4 linked regions of the Homo sapiens genome follow. The protein of the gene in region 1 interacts with the protein of each later gene in a pairwise test. Each region holds a gene or a part of one and is shown on either strand. Other genes may lie near its edges.

The links.
Region 2: the proteins of HSF2BP (region 1) and NCK2 interact in binary tests that used the Homo sapiens proteins (3 or more experiments, as listed by UniProt).
Region 3: the proteins of HSF2BP (region 1) and ZBTB42 interact in binary tests that used the Homo sapiens proteins (3 or more experiments, as listed by UniProt).
Region 4: the proteins of HSF2BP (region 1) and CDCA7L interact in binary tests that used the Homo sapiens proteins (3 or more experiments, as listed by UniProt).

Annotation. Positions count from the first base shown.
Region 1 is NC_000021.9:43,530,489-43,533,988, forward strand, and holds part of HSF2BP (heat shock factor 2-binding protein), read right to left. Parts: intron 1-3,500. UniProt on the Homo sapiens protein: Meiotic recombination factor component of recombination bridges involved in meiotic double-strand break repair.
Region 2 is NC_000002.12:105,852,912-105,856,411, reverse strand, and holds part of NCK2 (cytoplasmic protein NCK2), read right to left. Parts: intron 1,365-3,500; 5' UTR 1,349-1,364; coding exon 1,123-1,348; intron 1-1,122. UniProt on the Homo sapiens protein: Adapter protein which associates with tyrosine-phosphorylated growth factor receptors or their cellular substrates. Maintains low levels of EIF2S1 phosphorylation by promoting its dephosphorylation by PP1.
Region 3 is NC_000014.9:104,799,818-104,803,900, reverse strand, and holds the start of ZBTB42 (zinc finger and BTB domain-containing protein 42), read right to left. Parts: upstream 2,801-4,083; 5' UTR 2,704-2,800; coding exon 1,435-2,703; 3' UTR 1-1,434. UniProt on the Homo sapiens protein: Transcriptional repressor. Specifically binds DNA and probably acts by recruiting chromatin remodeling multiprotein complexes.
Region 4 is NC_000007.14:21,900,900-21,904,399, forward strand, and holds part of CDCA7L (cell division cycle-associated 7-like protein), read right to left. Parts: intron 3,361-3,500; coding exon 3,211-3,360; intron 2,216-3,210; coding exon 2,079-2,215; intron 1,454-2,078; coding exon 1,423-1,453; 3' UTR 356-1,422; coding exon of another isoform or gene 108-355; 3' UTR 1-107. Other genes in the region: DNAH11 (dynein axonemal heavy chain 11), read left to right, coding at 108-355. UniProt on the Homo sapiens protein: Plays a role in transcriptional regulation as a repressor that inhibits monoamine oxidase A (MAOA) activity and gene expression by binding to the promoter.

The DNA.
Region 1 (3,500 bases):
CTCAATAGTCTAATAACCATCATCTTCAAATATTACAGTCATACAATTTTAAAGTGTTAAACTAGAAAGATGAGGGCTTTCTCTGTTTGCTAGTGAGGACTAAACTCTGATTTTTTTTATCTTGCCCAAATTCCTATCTAAGGGGTCTGGGGAGTCATGTCCTACAAATCACAAATTCTCATCAGATGGGTTTTATTTAACCCTATATATCATGACTTTCCAACCTGACTCTGGCATAACATTATGAGACAAGAAAGAAAATAAAAATACTTTACCCCAAAATATGTTTCTTTGCCATATTTTGAAATGGCCCTGCAAAGCTGTTCTTTGTGGGGGAAAATCTGCATTTGTAAAGAATCTCTACTAACATAGCTAGATCTTTTTCTTCGAGACCCTCCTAATCCTAAAGAGATTAACTAAGATCTGAATAGGAAACATCTGTCATCTATTGTCTCTAAGGCAGCCACCATAAGACTTCAAAAGAACTTGGATGTCCACAATCTTTACCTTAACCTGAACATTCCCTTTCTATCAATCCCAGGTCTTTATCAATCAGAAAATGTTTAAATTCACCTATAGCCTGGAAGCCCCACGCCCCCCAGCTTTGTCCCACTTTTCTGGACCAAACCAATGTATTTCTTAAATGTTTTTGATTGATGTCTCACACCTCTCTAAAATGTATAAAGCCAAGCCGCACCCAACTACCTTGGGCACATGTTCTCAGGACCTCACTCATATTTGGCTCAGAACAAATCTCTTCAAATATTTTGCAGAGTTTGACTCTTTGTCGACAGTAGCATTCTGTCCACTTATAAGATTGTTTTAAAAAGTATTACTTCTTTTTCACTCCAATTGCAGCAAATCCCTCAGGGACCACATACAGATACAGCACTTATCAGGGCCACTGAGTTTACACAATGTCACTGGGTATATAAAATTCACGTTGTTTATTTTCCATGGGAATGGCCCCAGGACTTATAGAATCTGGTAGCCTTGCATACATTGTAGCAACCACTAAAAAATAGCTAGACAAACCCACTGGAAGCTTCAATCCATCACCAGAGTGGAGCCAACTTTCCTTACCATTCCTCTCTACTGGCAGCCTTTACGATGCCGTAAATTCACTCCTTGACTGGGTACTGCAACTGGAACCAGGCTCAAAATCAGCACCTCTTTCTTAGCACATTTACTTAACAAATAAAAAAATTAAAAAAAAACCTTTTAAGATGTAGACTGAAAGAGCAGACTGAACAGTCTCTCAGTGGGAGCTGCCACAGCACTAAGCCCTAACAAGAAGCTTCTCACCTACAGAATCAGAAGACTGCTGTGGCCAGGGAAGATAAAAGGCAATCTGCTCTAGCCCTCAGGGAGGGTCCAGGAGCCATCTTAAGCCAGCCTGTTAGAGTCCTCCTACTTTGGGGGAAGGGAGGGGAACTTTCTCTAGTAGAGACCTGCCAAAGATAAGGGGCAGCTAAGGCAGACACAGAGGCAAGGCCAAAAGCCATGGGTGAAGACGCTTTGGCAACTCAGCCCTCATCCTAAGCTCAAGGAAAGGTTAGAGGAATTTGAAGCCAGTGGGATGGAAGGTACATACACAACAACAAAACCCAGACCCACCTTAACTCCCCAACAATGAAAACCCAGCGGAAAAAGAGGAGTGGCCATTCCTGAATATAACACTATCTACCCACCTCATTCCCCTCTACAGAGAGGGTACGCATGGCCCAGAGGCCAAAGGTAGCCCATGACCCGTTTCTGTACAGCCTGCAAGCTAAGAATGGTTTTACTTTTTTTTTCTTCTTCTTCTTCTTCTTTCCTCCTCCTCCTCCTCCTCCTCCCCCCCCCTCCTCTCCTCCTCCACCACCTCCTCCTCCCCCCCCCCTCCTCCTCCTCCTTTTGGAGACAGGGTCTTGCTCTGTCTCCCAGGCTGGAGTACTCTGGTACAATCATGGCTCACTGCAGTCTCAATCTCCTGGGCTCAAGCCATCCTCCCACCTCGGCCTCCCAAGAAAGAGGGACCACAGAACATGTGGCCACGCCCAGTTAATTTTTCACATTTTTTTGTAGAGACGGTGTCTCACCACACTGCCCAGGCTGGTATCAAACCCCTGGGCTCAAGCAATCCTTCCACCTCAGTCTCCCAAAGGGCCAGAATTAGAGGCATGAACCATTGCAGCCTGCCAGGTTTTACATTTTTTAAGGGTAATTTTTTAAAAGTAAAAACCAGAAGAATAACATGCAACAGGGACTACACGTGGCTCTCAAAACTCAAAATATTTATTTGGCCCATTACAGAAAAAGTTTTTTGACCTTGCCTACTGCCCTCCACACAATGTCCAACACTGAAATCAAAAATTACAATGAAGAGGCAATGGAGGCCAGGCGCAGTGGCTCACACCTGTAATCCCAGCACTTTGGGAGGCCAAGGCGGGCGGATCACGAGGTCAGGAGTTTGAGAACAGCCTGGCCAACATAGTGAAACCCCATCTCTACTAAAAATATAACAATTAGCTGGGTGTGGTGGCGCACGCCTGTAATCCCAGGTACTCAGGAGGCTGAGGCAGGAGAATCCCTTGAACCCAGGAAGCAGAGGTTGCAGTGAGCTGAGATTGCGCCACTGCACTCCAGCCTGGGCAACAAAGTGAGACTCTGTCTCAAAAACAAACAAACAAACAAACAAACAAACAAACAAAAGAAGGCAAAGGAAACAAAAGGCTCATTGTCAAGTGACAATCAACAGAAGCAGACACACAGATAACCTGGAATAATAATACAGGAATTTCAGAAAAAGAATCTGAAATAAATATGATCAATAGATGGGAAAACACTGTTTTAAGGTACTTACACTATACCTGAAGCAGCGGATTATTATTTAAAGGTAAACAGTCATGCAATGTATAACATTTCAGAGAGCTTCATTGTCAAATTCTATCAAAAAATTAGAACAGAAATAATAGAAATTTTAAACAAGTCTTCCAGAAAACAGAAAAGGAGGAAATAAGTCAACTTTTTTTTATGAGGCCAGAATTACACTGACACCAAAACTAGATAAAGATGTTAAAATAAAAGAACAGACCAATATCCCTCATAAACAAAGACACGAAAATCCTAAACAAAAAAATAGCAAATTGCATTCAGCAATATATAAAAAGGATAATACTTCACAGCCAATAGACACTTATTCTAGGAATGGAAGGCTGGCTCATTATTTGCAAATCAGTCAACATCACCTACCGTAACAACAGACTAAAGAAGAAAAAAAAAATTATCTCTTCAATAAATGCAGAAAAGCCTTTTGACAAAATTCAACATCTGTTCATAACAGTAATAATAATAATAAACCCTCAACAAAACAGGAATAAAAAGGAACATCCTGAACCAGATTAGGGGCATCTACAAAAAACACACAGCTAACATCATACTTAATGATAGAAGACTGAATGCTTCTTTCCTAAGATGACGTACAAGGCAAGAATATCCTATCACCCCTATTCAAAATC
Region 2 (3,500 bases), on another chromosome or scaffold:
TCATTTCACTAGCAAACCCTTAAGTGATAACCTGCAGTCTTGGATACAGACAACATTATACTCATAAGAAGGTAACAACGTTTTAAATGTCAGCTCAGATGAGTCATTCTTCAAAAAAGTCCTCGCAATTATTTTCTCAGGTAATCTGAGGCAGTAAATACTGTAAGTCAGTTCCGTGTGCATGTAAAGGCAAGACTGGATACTGTTAACTTTGTGTAACTCCAGGAGGGCACTGCCCATAACCTGACAACACCTGGGAAAACAAGAGGCACATGGGGAGCCGGGCACGGTGGCTCACGCCTGTAATCCCAGCACTTTGGGAGGCCAAGGTGGGCGGATCACAAGGTCAAGAGATCGAGATCATCCTGGCTAACACAGTGAAACCCCATCTCTACTAAAAATACAAAAAATTAGCCGGATGTGGTGGTGGGTGCCTGTAGTCCCAGCTACTCGGGAGGCTGAGGCAGGAGAATGGTGTGAACCCAGGAGGTGGAGCTTGCAGTGAGGCAAGATCGTGCCACTGCACTCCAGCCTGGGCAAGAGTGTGAGACTCCGTCTCAAAAAAAAAAAAAAAAAAAAGAGGCACATGGGGACAACAGTATGGCTGAACTAGGCCCCCACCATGGAGCGGCCTCTGATGTCACAAAGCTGCCCTCTTAGCTAACGGCACCCAGGACTGTGGTGTGATGTAGCATCCATTTCAGAGAGGGAAAAAGTGCTTTGGCTGTCCCCTGCTCTAGGCACGTAGGCCAAATGGACAGGATTGTATAAGAGAGAAAGAACTTCATGTCACGACACTGGCAGAGCTGGGTAGACTTAGAGGTGAGAATTCCAAGTCAGGCTCCTCTAACGTTTTGATACAAGGAGATACCTGTGCAGGGGTCCCAAGCACACAAAGTGTCTCCATACACAGGACCCCAAACTCCAGAATCTCCAGGAAATGAAAAACATCCTCTTTCTCCATCTTCATCTCTTAATTCTTAGATTATTAAAAAAGACAACTAGGAAGATATTAACTTTTAAAACAGACTTTTTTTTTTTTGAAACAGCAAACTAACTAGAAAGACGAACAGTGTCCCTTGAAATGCACAAGGCTTCCTCTCTCGAGGGTGAAACACTCACCTAGTGTGTCCTTCAGGTTCTTCACGAGGGAGCCCTTCTTCAGGCTGTTCTTCCGCTCCACGTAGTTGGACGGTACATAGCCCGTCCTGTTGGCCGCGTTCCTCACCCGCCACCACGTCTTGGAGTCGTCCAGCAACCACAGCCGCTCGTTCTTCTTGATGTCCAGCTCCTGGTCCTGCTGGGCGGTGTAGTCCCACTTGGCTATCACAATAACTTCTTCTGTCATCTTTCATGGAGTCCTTCTGCCAGCAAAACATTTGGAGATGCTCATTAGAGAACTACCCGGACACTTCATCCTTTGCACCAACTTGAAAAATTAGGCACTGACAGCTTTTATTACAACTCTGCAACCAGTTTTCTCCTGGGTCTTGAAATGCTCAACTTTAAAATGACCTTCTTTCAACAAGCTTTAGTATTTGGTTTAGAAACAGCAACCTTATAAAACAAATCTTATGTTACTGTTTGCTGTACATGGGGAAATCTGACCCTCTAACAAAAACAAACTTGAAAAAAATTCTAAATAACATTATAATTAAATGAGTCCATTTCATTAAGTAACACTGCCTCCTGATAACTGTTAGGTTGACACTCATTTTCTCAGGATATGCTGTGTCTTATAAACATATTTAATAAGTCAACATAACCAAACTACTCCTATAAATTAAAATTAACATTGTACTAATAACAAGGTGGTATCCTGGATTGGATCATGAAACAGAAAAAGAAAATTAATGGAAATACTGGTGAAATCAAAATAAAGTCTAAGAATAATAATAACAATAAATAATTGTCAATCTCTTAGTTTGGACAACACACCAGTAAGATGTTACTGCATTCACATAAGATGTTAACACAATGAGAAACCAGGTAAAGGGTATAAGGGAAAGTTCTGTACTATACTGGGAACTTTTTTATAAATATAAAATTATTCCCCAAAACTTTCATTCACACAAAAACCTGTGCAGAGACGTCTGTAGCAGCTTTATTCATAATTGCTCAAATTTGGAAGCAAGCAAAATGTCCTTTAGTAGGACACAGTTTATAGATACATAAACTGTGGTATATCCAGACAATGAAATATTATTCAGTACCAAAAAGAAATGAGCTATCAAGCCATGAAAAGACATAGCGGAACCTTAAACGCATATTGCTAGGTGAAAGAAGCCAATCTGAAAAGGCTACACACTGTGTGATTCTGACAGTTTATCCTTAACCAAACTTCAGCCAAATTCCTTTGAATCTTCTTCCCTTTAAGGCCTCAACTTTTGCACTTCCGTGTCCATCTCTGCATTGCCCAATTTTTGCAAGACTCTCCTGCTAAGGTGCTCTAGCTGGAATCCTCCACTCTCAACATCTGATCAGGTTCCTCATCCTCTACCATCCCCCAGGTGACAGCTGATCACCCTGTCCTGCCTTCAGAAGAATCCTGTTCGGTCAGTTTAGCCAGAATCCCCACGCTCCACCCCTGATGTTTCCTCTTAGTAATTTTCCACCCACCAACTCCCTTATTTTGCTCCTTGCCTATAAATGCCCACTCTTCCTTGTTGTCTTAATATTAGGAGTCAAACCCAATCTCTTTCTTGACTGCAAAACCCTACTGTAGTAGTCCCTCTGAATAAAATCTGCCTTACTGTTCTTCAACAAATGTCATGAATAAGTTTTTTCTTTAAAACGGTATGACATACTGGAAAAGACAAATCTATGGAGACAGTAAGAAAATAAGTGCTTGCCTGGGGCAAGAGGGAAGGGAGGGATGCAAGGGTGAAGCACAGGATTTTTAAGGCTGTGAAACTACTCTGCTCAATACTATAATGGCGGACACCTGTCATTATACATTTGTTAAAATCTATAAAATGTGCAACATCAAAAGTGAACATAACATTTTTCCAAAATGAAAAGTTTATCAAAACAACAATAAATAGATGCGTGTATTATATATCCAGTAAAGTCAATTTTGGAAGTAATAAATAGCAAAAGTGTGGCTGAATAAATAAAATAAATAATCAACTATTTTAGCAACTCTCTACTTCTTAGGTAGAAGATGAACCAATATTCTTTAAGCAGAAAAATTCAATATTCAGTCCTTAAACTAACTAGACATTTCTCCAAACTAGGGAGAAATGAATGATGAAAACACTCAGGACTAAAATCCCCTTCCTCCCTGACAGAGAAGTTCTCATTATTGTATAGGGATGACTTTAGGATTACAGGGGACCTATGCACATTGACTCCATGGAAGCATAAATACCATTTTTAAATAACATATTTTCTACTAGATGCTAAAAAAATTTTTTTATAAATAATACACGTTTCTTTCATGAATTAACTTCCAAATTTAAAGATAACAAACCTTTTGGGAAGGAGGAAAGCCTCTGCAT
Region 3 (4,083 bases), on another chromosome or scaffold:
ATGACATCCAGTGTTGTCAGGAGATGAGAAAATAACGTAGACTTGGCTGGACTCTGTTGTCAAGGCCATTCCCAGTCACAGAGGAAACATCCCAGGTGGTCTCCAGGCGTCCAGGTGGCTCTGCACCTGCCGACCCCCAGAGGCCAGTGAGGTTCTGGCAGCAAGATGTGCTCCATTAGGCAGGCAAAGCAGGGCGACCTGAACCAACGACATGTGTGGGGGTTGTGGTCTCCACATTCTATTCATGTTCGAGGAGCGTCAGTCTCCCAAGGCTGCGGATGGAGGCCCCTAGGGTGCTGCGACTCCCACTCCTCACCTGCCCCTAACCCTGCCGCCATGGCCACTTTCACCCATGCCTCGCCGTGGGGAAAGGAAGGCCCGCAAACCCTGCCCCTGGCGGACAGGGCAGCCCTTGCCTCTGCTCAGTCAGTGCACGGAAATGCCCACAGCTCCAGGGAAACCCCCTAGCAGGCAGAGTGACCGTCAAGGTAAGGCCCACGGTGGCCCAGCAGCAGCACACAGCTCAGCGGCCCAGACCCCACCCTGGGGGATGCCCAGAGGCTTCCTAGACCTGCACTCAGGCAGACAAGCATGTGGCTGGGCGGCCACCAGCAGACATCTGGCCGCCTCAGGAGGCTCTTCCTGGCTCTAAAGAGAATCCAGTTCCAAATTCCCACTTTCTCTGCTCAAAGTTACAGTGTGGTCATAATTGCACGCTCTCATGGACCCACGTCCCACCCGAGTGACAATGATGCCACAGCCACTCAGCTTCTAGCTGGCTCTACTCCTGCTGCCTTAGGATCCCTGCTGGGGCTGCACCCCCCCCCCCACCCCGAGACACCAGCTGTGCCCAGATGGCCCCTGCTGGCACTCACTGTGCCCCAGGCCTTCCTGGCAGGGGTTCCTGCTGCCGCTCCCCAGGAGTGTCCTGTTCCCTCCCAGCGCCCCATTGGGACGCACACCAACAACTTTTCTGACATGTGAATAATTCACCTAGCGTGGGGCCAGGCTCATGAAGACCTCCCCAAGCCTGCCAGAGAGGTGGTCAGGAAAGTCCCGGGCCGGGAGATGGATGTGCCATCTCACACGGAGAAACGGGGGCAGAGCCAGGTGCTGGTTGGACACCCCTCAGAACTTGGCTGGAGGGGACGGGAGAGGAAGATAGTGTCACAGCCTAGGCAGGGCACAGCCTGGGGGCCGGAATGAGTTGGAGAGTGAGGGGAAAGGAGAGGCAAGGTGGGAGGAAGGCTGCCCAAGTTACCGAGTCTGAGGCCAAGTTCCAGGAAGAGGCAGCATTCTCTCTGCCAGGAGGGTGGAGCCATCTGGCCCAAGCAGGGACCTCCACCTGGTCAGGCTTCACACCCCATGCTGTGTCCCACCTGGGAGGGCCCATCCCTTCCCTTCCACCCCACCCTCAGGACCCACAGGGATGCATCACACCAGAAGGGACTTGACGAGGCCACAGTGAAACTTGCGGACGTGGCGGTAGAGGTCCCCGGACTGCGTGAAACGGCGCTCACACCACCGGCAGGCATGCGGCTTCTCTCGAGTGTGCACTACGGTGTGCCGGCTCAGGTTGTGGGAGTACTGAAAACTTTTGCCACACTGCACACACGTATAGGGCTTCTCACCCGAGTGTGTCCGCTCGTGCCTCTTCAGTGTGTATGTGCACGAGAAGGTCTTCCCACAGAGCGGGCAGGTGGGTGCCACGCCGTCGGGTGAGAGCCGGGCCCGGGTGCTGTCTCGCTCACGGAAGTGGGCACTGAGGTGCAGCTGCAGCACGTGGGAGCTGGGAAACAGCTTGCTGCACAACGGGCAGATGCAGAGGGGCCCACCAGGCCCCAGCTCGTCCTCACTCGCCAGTCGCCCTGCACCAAGCTCCAGCTCCCGGCTGCCCTCTCCGCTGAGGGGCAGCGGCTGCAAGCCCACCACCAGGCCCTTGGCTGCAGGAACAGGAGGTGGCTTCGGGGGACTGTGGGGGCTCCTAGAGCTGCTGCTCTCCTCCTGTTCGGACAGTGAGTCCCGTTCGTCCTTCACCAGTGGCTGGGCCCCTGGCTGCCTCTGGCTGCAGAGGGGTGTCTGGAGGACGCACGGTGGGTGGACCCGCTCCTGCCTTGGGCCAGACTTCAACGACAGGTCCAGGGCCTGGTCTGACTCTTCTGGGACCTGGCAGGGAGGAGGCCCAGATGCTCGAGGAGGGAGGGCAGCCTTGACCCCAAACGGGGGGAGCTTGGCCTTTCGGGCAGCTGGGCAGAGGTCCGCGGTCCAGACAGGCCAGGGGCACGGTGGCTGAGCAGGTTCTGCCCCAGGGGCAGGGTTCCCCGGGTCCAGACTTCGATCCTTCTCCTGGAGCCTGCCCTTGCAGACCTTGACGATGTCATACATGTGCAGGTAGCTGGCGGCTGCCAGGACGTCCTCCACAGGCAGGCTGCGCAGGTCCAGGCGGCCCTCGTACATGAAGTCCAGTAGGCGGCCGAAGGCGGGCGCCGTGACGATGTCGCCGTTGAGCCGCACCGTGTCGCGACTGCCCGCGGGCCGGTCCCTGTAGAAGAGATGGAAGTAGACGCTGCACGCGGCCAGCACGGCACGGTGGGCCGGGAAGCGCGCGTCGCCCACCAGCACGGTGCAGTCGCATAGGAAGCCCAGCTCGCGCTGCTGTCTCAGGCGGCCCAGCAGCCGTCCGCCGTGCTCAGGGAACTCCATGCCGCCGCCGTCATCACCTGGGCACAAACGGGACGCCCGTCAGCGCGCCTGGAGGCGCCCACGAAGCGCCCTTCCCGGCTGCAGGCAGCGCGGAAAGAGCGGCGCGGGAGTGACGCGCGCAACCTCCCGTCCAGAGCCGCCGCGGGCACCTGCCCCGAGCAGGAAAAACTCGATCGAAAGTAAACAGTAGCAGCTCCGCCGCGGGGGCGGGTCCCGGGACTCAGGCGCAGGAGCCGGAGCCGCGCAAACCTGCGCGCGTCCCCGCCCGGGCGCTCCTGAACTTCACTCCCGGGCGGCCGCCCGCTCGCGGCGTCCCCGACGCCCGGGTGGCTGCGCCGCCACCCGCCCCACGCCTCCGCGCCGCCTCCAGCTGCCGCCCGGCCCACCAGATGCCGCCGCCGCCGGCCCCATTTATGGCAGCGCGGCCGCGGGGAGCGGGGAGAGGGCCGGCGGGCGGGCGGGGCGGGCAGAGCCGGGAGCCCACCCCCAGCGCTCACCTCCGCCGCCCCGAGCTCCTCTCCGGTCGCCGCTCGCGCGCGCGCCCTCCCCAGGGCGGCCCTGGCGCGCGTGGAGCTGCGGGCAGCGCGCCCCGGCGGGGAGGGCGCGGGGACGGCGAGGGCGCCGGGCGGGGCGCGCTCCAACTTGGCTGGCCCAGCGCCGCCCGCCGCTCGCCCCGCCCCAGAGAGAGCGAAACTCGGGGCGGGGGCCGGAGGGGGCGGGCCGAGCGACTTCCCGGAGCGGCGGAACCGCTGAGGTCACCCTCGCCCCCCCTTCCCTGTCCGCCCCACCCGGCCGGGCCCCGCGCGCAGCCAGCAGGGGCGCTGGGGTGTGAGGGGGGTTTAGGGCACTGCGCGGGGGCAGGGGGTCTCTCGCGATACTTGGCGCTTTGGCCTGGGTCCCCCACCTCCCAACCTTTCCCGGCATGGGGTCCTTACTGCGCCAGTCTGCAAAAGGAACCCTTCCGAGGGTCCGCTTGTATCCCAGCCCGCGTTGGGCAGTCACCCGAGGGTAAACCCGGGACCCTGGCCTCCCGCCACCTCGCAGGGCGCCGGCCTTGGGATGGCGTAGGGGTTGCGTGGATTGGGGGTCGTTAATTTTGCAAAGATGACACCTCCTTCTTCCTTGAAAGCCTCTTTTTGAATTTAATTCAGCTGGGACCCTCTTCCAAACATTCAAGCAGGATGTCGATCCTAGAGTCCAGAACGGGGACTTCCACCCTCTCCACAGACCCCAGCCCAGCGTCTATGGGGGACCCAGCGCAGAGAGGCACGGAAAACGGGCACCTCCCAGCAGACATGGTGGCACGGGGGGACAAACGCCATAACAGAGACAGTCGGAAGCCCTCCAGAGCCCAGGGTAGGCAGGAACGTGTTCAAAGAG
Region 4 (3,500 bases), on another chromosome or scaffold:
ATGACAAAACCAGAATGTTGAATGTTTATTGCATCAAACAACTTACTTGATCATTATCATTAGTAGCAAGCTGCCACACAATTGCAACCGCTGTGTTTTTGCCATAGGCGCCCGCTGGGACACCCAAGCAGGAACCATTGTTGAAGCCCGTCTCAAGGAGCTGGCATGCCCTATGCCGGTCATCTTTGCAAAAGCCACCCCCGTGGACAGACAAGAAACCAAACAGACCTACGAGTGCCCTGTGTATAGAACCAAACTGAGAGGCCCCAGCTACATCTGGACCTTCAGGCTGAAGAGCGAAGAGAAGACTGCAAAATGGGTTCTGGCTGGAGTGGCTCTGCTTCTAGAAGCGTAAGGTAACACTGGCATTCCTCTAGCCTCTGCTGGAGTGCAGTGAGGATTTTCTAGCATGTTGCTGCACTGTTCCCATGCACATTATTCTAACTTTTTAGTAACTCACACGTGCATTCTTTTTTCAACGCTATCCTTAGAGTGAAAGTCAGAAAAAAATACTAGAAACTAACTCAGGGCTGAGCGTGGTGGCACACGACTGTAATCCCAGTTACTCAGGAGGTAGGAGAATCACTTGAACCTAGGAGGCAAAGGTTGCAGTGAGCCGAGGTTGCACCACTGCACTCCCTCCTGGGCAACAGAACAAGACTCCATCTCAAAAAAAAAAAAGTACATCATAAAAGTACATCATATGTGAACATGCAAAAGCAATGCAGCCGGAAAGAACGGAGATTTTAATTTTTAACAAACAACAAATTAAATTATTAGCCCTTAAACTCTTTCAAAATATAAAAGCAGCAGGCCCCAGGTGAGTCCTGAAGGAAGAGGCTAGCACTCTGTAAGGCCTCCAGTGTCCAGTGTCTACAATGTTGATGGTCCCCTTTTGTTCAGTCAAGTTTTAATAAAAATAAAACTGTTCTACAGTTAATTGCACTTTGTTCAGTGTAAATTTCCAATGACCAAGAGCAGGTTAAACGATGTGTGTGGTCTATTAAACTGTGGTCACTCGTGCTAAGGCACACTTGGCCTGGAGTGAGTTACTGTTTGGGAAGCCAAAGATAGATAGATCAAGTGCAGGAGCTGATCATACAATGTTTTCTCTCTAACTTACTTACCTGAACTTTAACCCCACCCCATTTAAACTGTGCTTTTTAATAACTGGCAGATATTTTTAACAAAGTTCAGCATACAGACAGGTCTGTGCATACATCTATATAGATTCCTCTGCTCTGCTGTCTTCCTGAGAAATCTTTGTAAGCATATAAACAATCTTTAACAAAAAATAGTAATTTCTACAAAGAATTTCTGTATAAAAACACAACTGTAAAAAAATCTTTCTTAGGCACCAATGGTATGCATGTCTTGTTGGAGTACTCTATGGTGAGGTGGCTGGTTCTGTTTGTTTTCCTCTTAATTGTCTTCTACCAGCTCCTTTTGTAAGCTGGGAAAAAGATGAGAAGTATTTGGTAAAGTAGTACAAATACACAAATGGCATTCTAGGCTTGAGAGATTCCACAATCATCTAAGAGTACAAAGCCAGAACCCAGATCTCCTGACACTCGAAATCCTGACAATTTATGCATCAATATCCGTATACCCTCTGGTGTAGTACGCCCCAAGCATGACTTGCCTCACTCCCGCATTCCAGAACCACGATTCAGAGTTTATTAATTACATAAATGAAACTTGTAACTCACATTCTGTCCTCTTGCCCTGAACTCTCTCTCTGCACTAGGATTATGGCTGCCTCTTCATAATCTGTGTCTTTCCCCTCAGCCTGCCTTGTTTGTTTGTTCCTTCCATTTCTGTCATACACCTCAAGGAGAAATTTTGGTTAAAGGCAACGTGGAGTTGAGTTGAAAAATCTAGCAAAGGAGAAGATTCCCTAATAGGGAAAATATCAGGCCTGAGCTTTTCCAATGCAAACAGATACAGAATGGATGGTACTCGTGGTTTATATAAGTAAGTAAGTCACACGGGAAGGCAACAACTACTTGCCCAGAGGGTCTCCTGTGCTCAGCCTCAAGATTTCAAGCTGTTTTGTAAGCTGCTAGAGACTTACTTACCTCTCCAGATATTCCTTAACATTGTCATAACCATAAAACTTGGCCAGATGAATGAGGATTCCTGTGGCACAGCGGCCGTCACGCTTCCGACAGTAGCTGCAATTGCAGATCCCACGACAGGGGGGACACACCCAATCCTAACAGAGAGATGACAGCAGACACTTCGCTCATTATCTACAGGGTCTGGCAAGAACTGGGATTCGGATCCAGAATGGCTCAGCTGGCCTCTCCTCCAACCTTTAATCACATGGCATCTTTCAGTCTACGTCCCAGGGGGCTCCTCACAAGGCAGGAAGGCTGAATCACCCCACGTCACATGCAAACACTGAAAAATGACACCTTTTAGGGCTCCTTGCTTAAAAATTATGGAGATTTTCACAAGCATTTGGCCAAGCACAGGGCCCTGTGCGAGCATGCAGGTCACAGGCCCAGGATGTCAGCCCTGGTTTAGGAGCACAAGGTTTCCAAAATATCAAGGTATGAATTTCAGCCCTTTCAATGTGTGCTTATTGTTGAATGACTAACCTGAGCAGCAGTTTGTTTGTCTGTCAGTTGAGGACCATATATTTACCCCATGACTGCTGCCTAAGAGGTCACACTCGGGAGCAGGACTGCCCCAGGCTCAAGGTCGTGCCTACTCACCATGATACTATGTCTCATTTTACCGAGGGAGCTGAGAGAGGTTATACACCTATTTCATGGGATTAAACAAATTTATGGTAACAGAGTGAGCGACAGCTTGCACAGTGCCAGGCACACAGAGAGCACTCTATACTGCAATCTCCACCTCCCTCTCAGCCTGGCCCAGGAAAAACAAAACAAATCAGAGGGAAATCACTTTGCTGAAGGACAGGTACAGGGATTACTTGCATAAAACTAGAGGACTGTAAGCAAGTTTTGCTCTGACAATGGAAAATCTAACAACATTAATTCTTCTATTCACTGGTCAGCTTGCTCTCCTTCCAGAAGGAATCCCTATTTTTCATTTTCCCTGGAGCCTTAAGATACAAATGGAAGGGAAAAACCAGAGTTCTGGAGCTCCCTAGTTCCCAGTGAGAACCCAGGAGGCCCATCTTTATAGCTTGCTTCCTTCACCAATACAATTTACAACAAATGCAAACACTGTTCCTACCGGGTCCAGCAATGCCGATCTGACATCCTCCCCATAGCGGTTCCGCAGGCATGGTCCACAGAACTGTCCTCGCACACCACAGCAACCCTGGTTCCGACACACTGTCTTGGTGTCGATGGTCTTTTGTCGACACTGATGGCACGTGTTACCCTACAGGGGGAAGGCAGTGAGCAGGTGAACACAGGGATATGCTGATGCCCAATGAGGCCAGATGCCACCATGTGCATTTCCAAGTATATGAAGAAATACCCCCGTCTCCTCGAATCAAGCAGGACTGTTTTCCTAAGAAC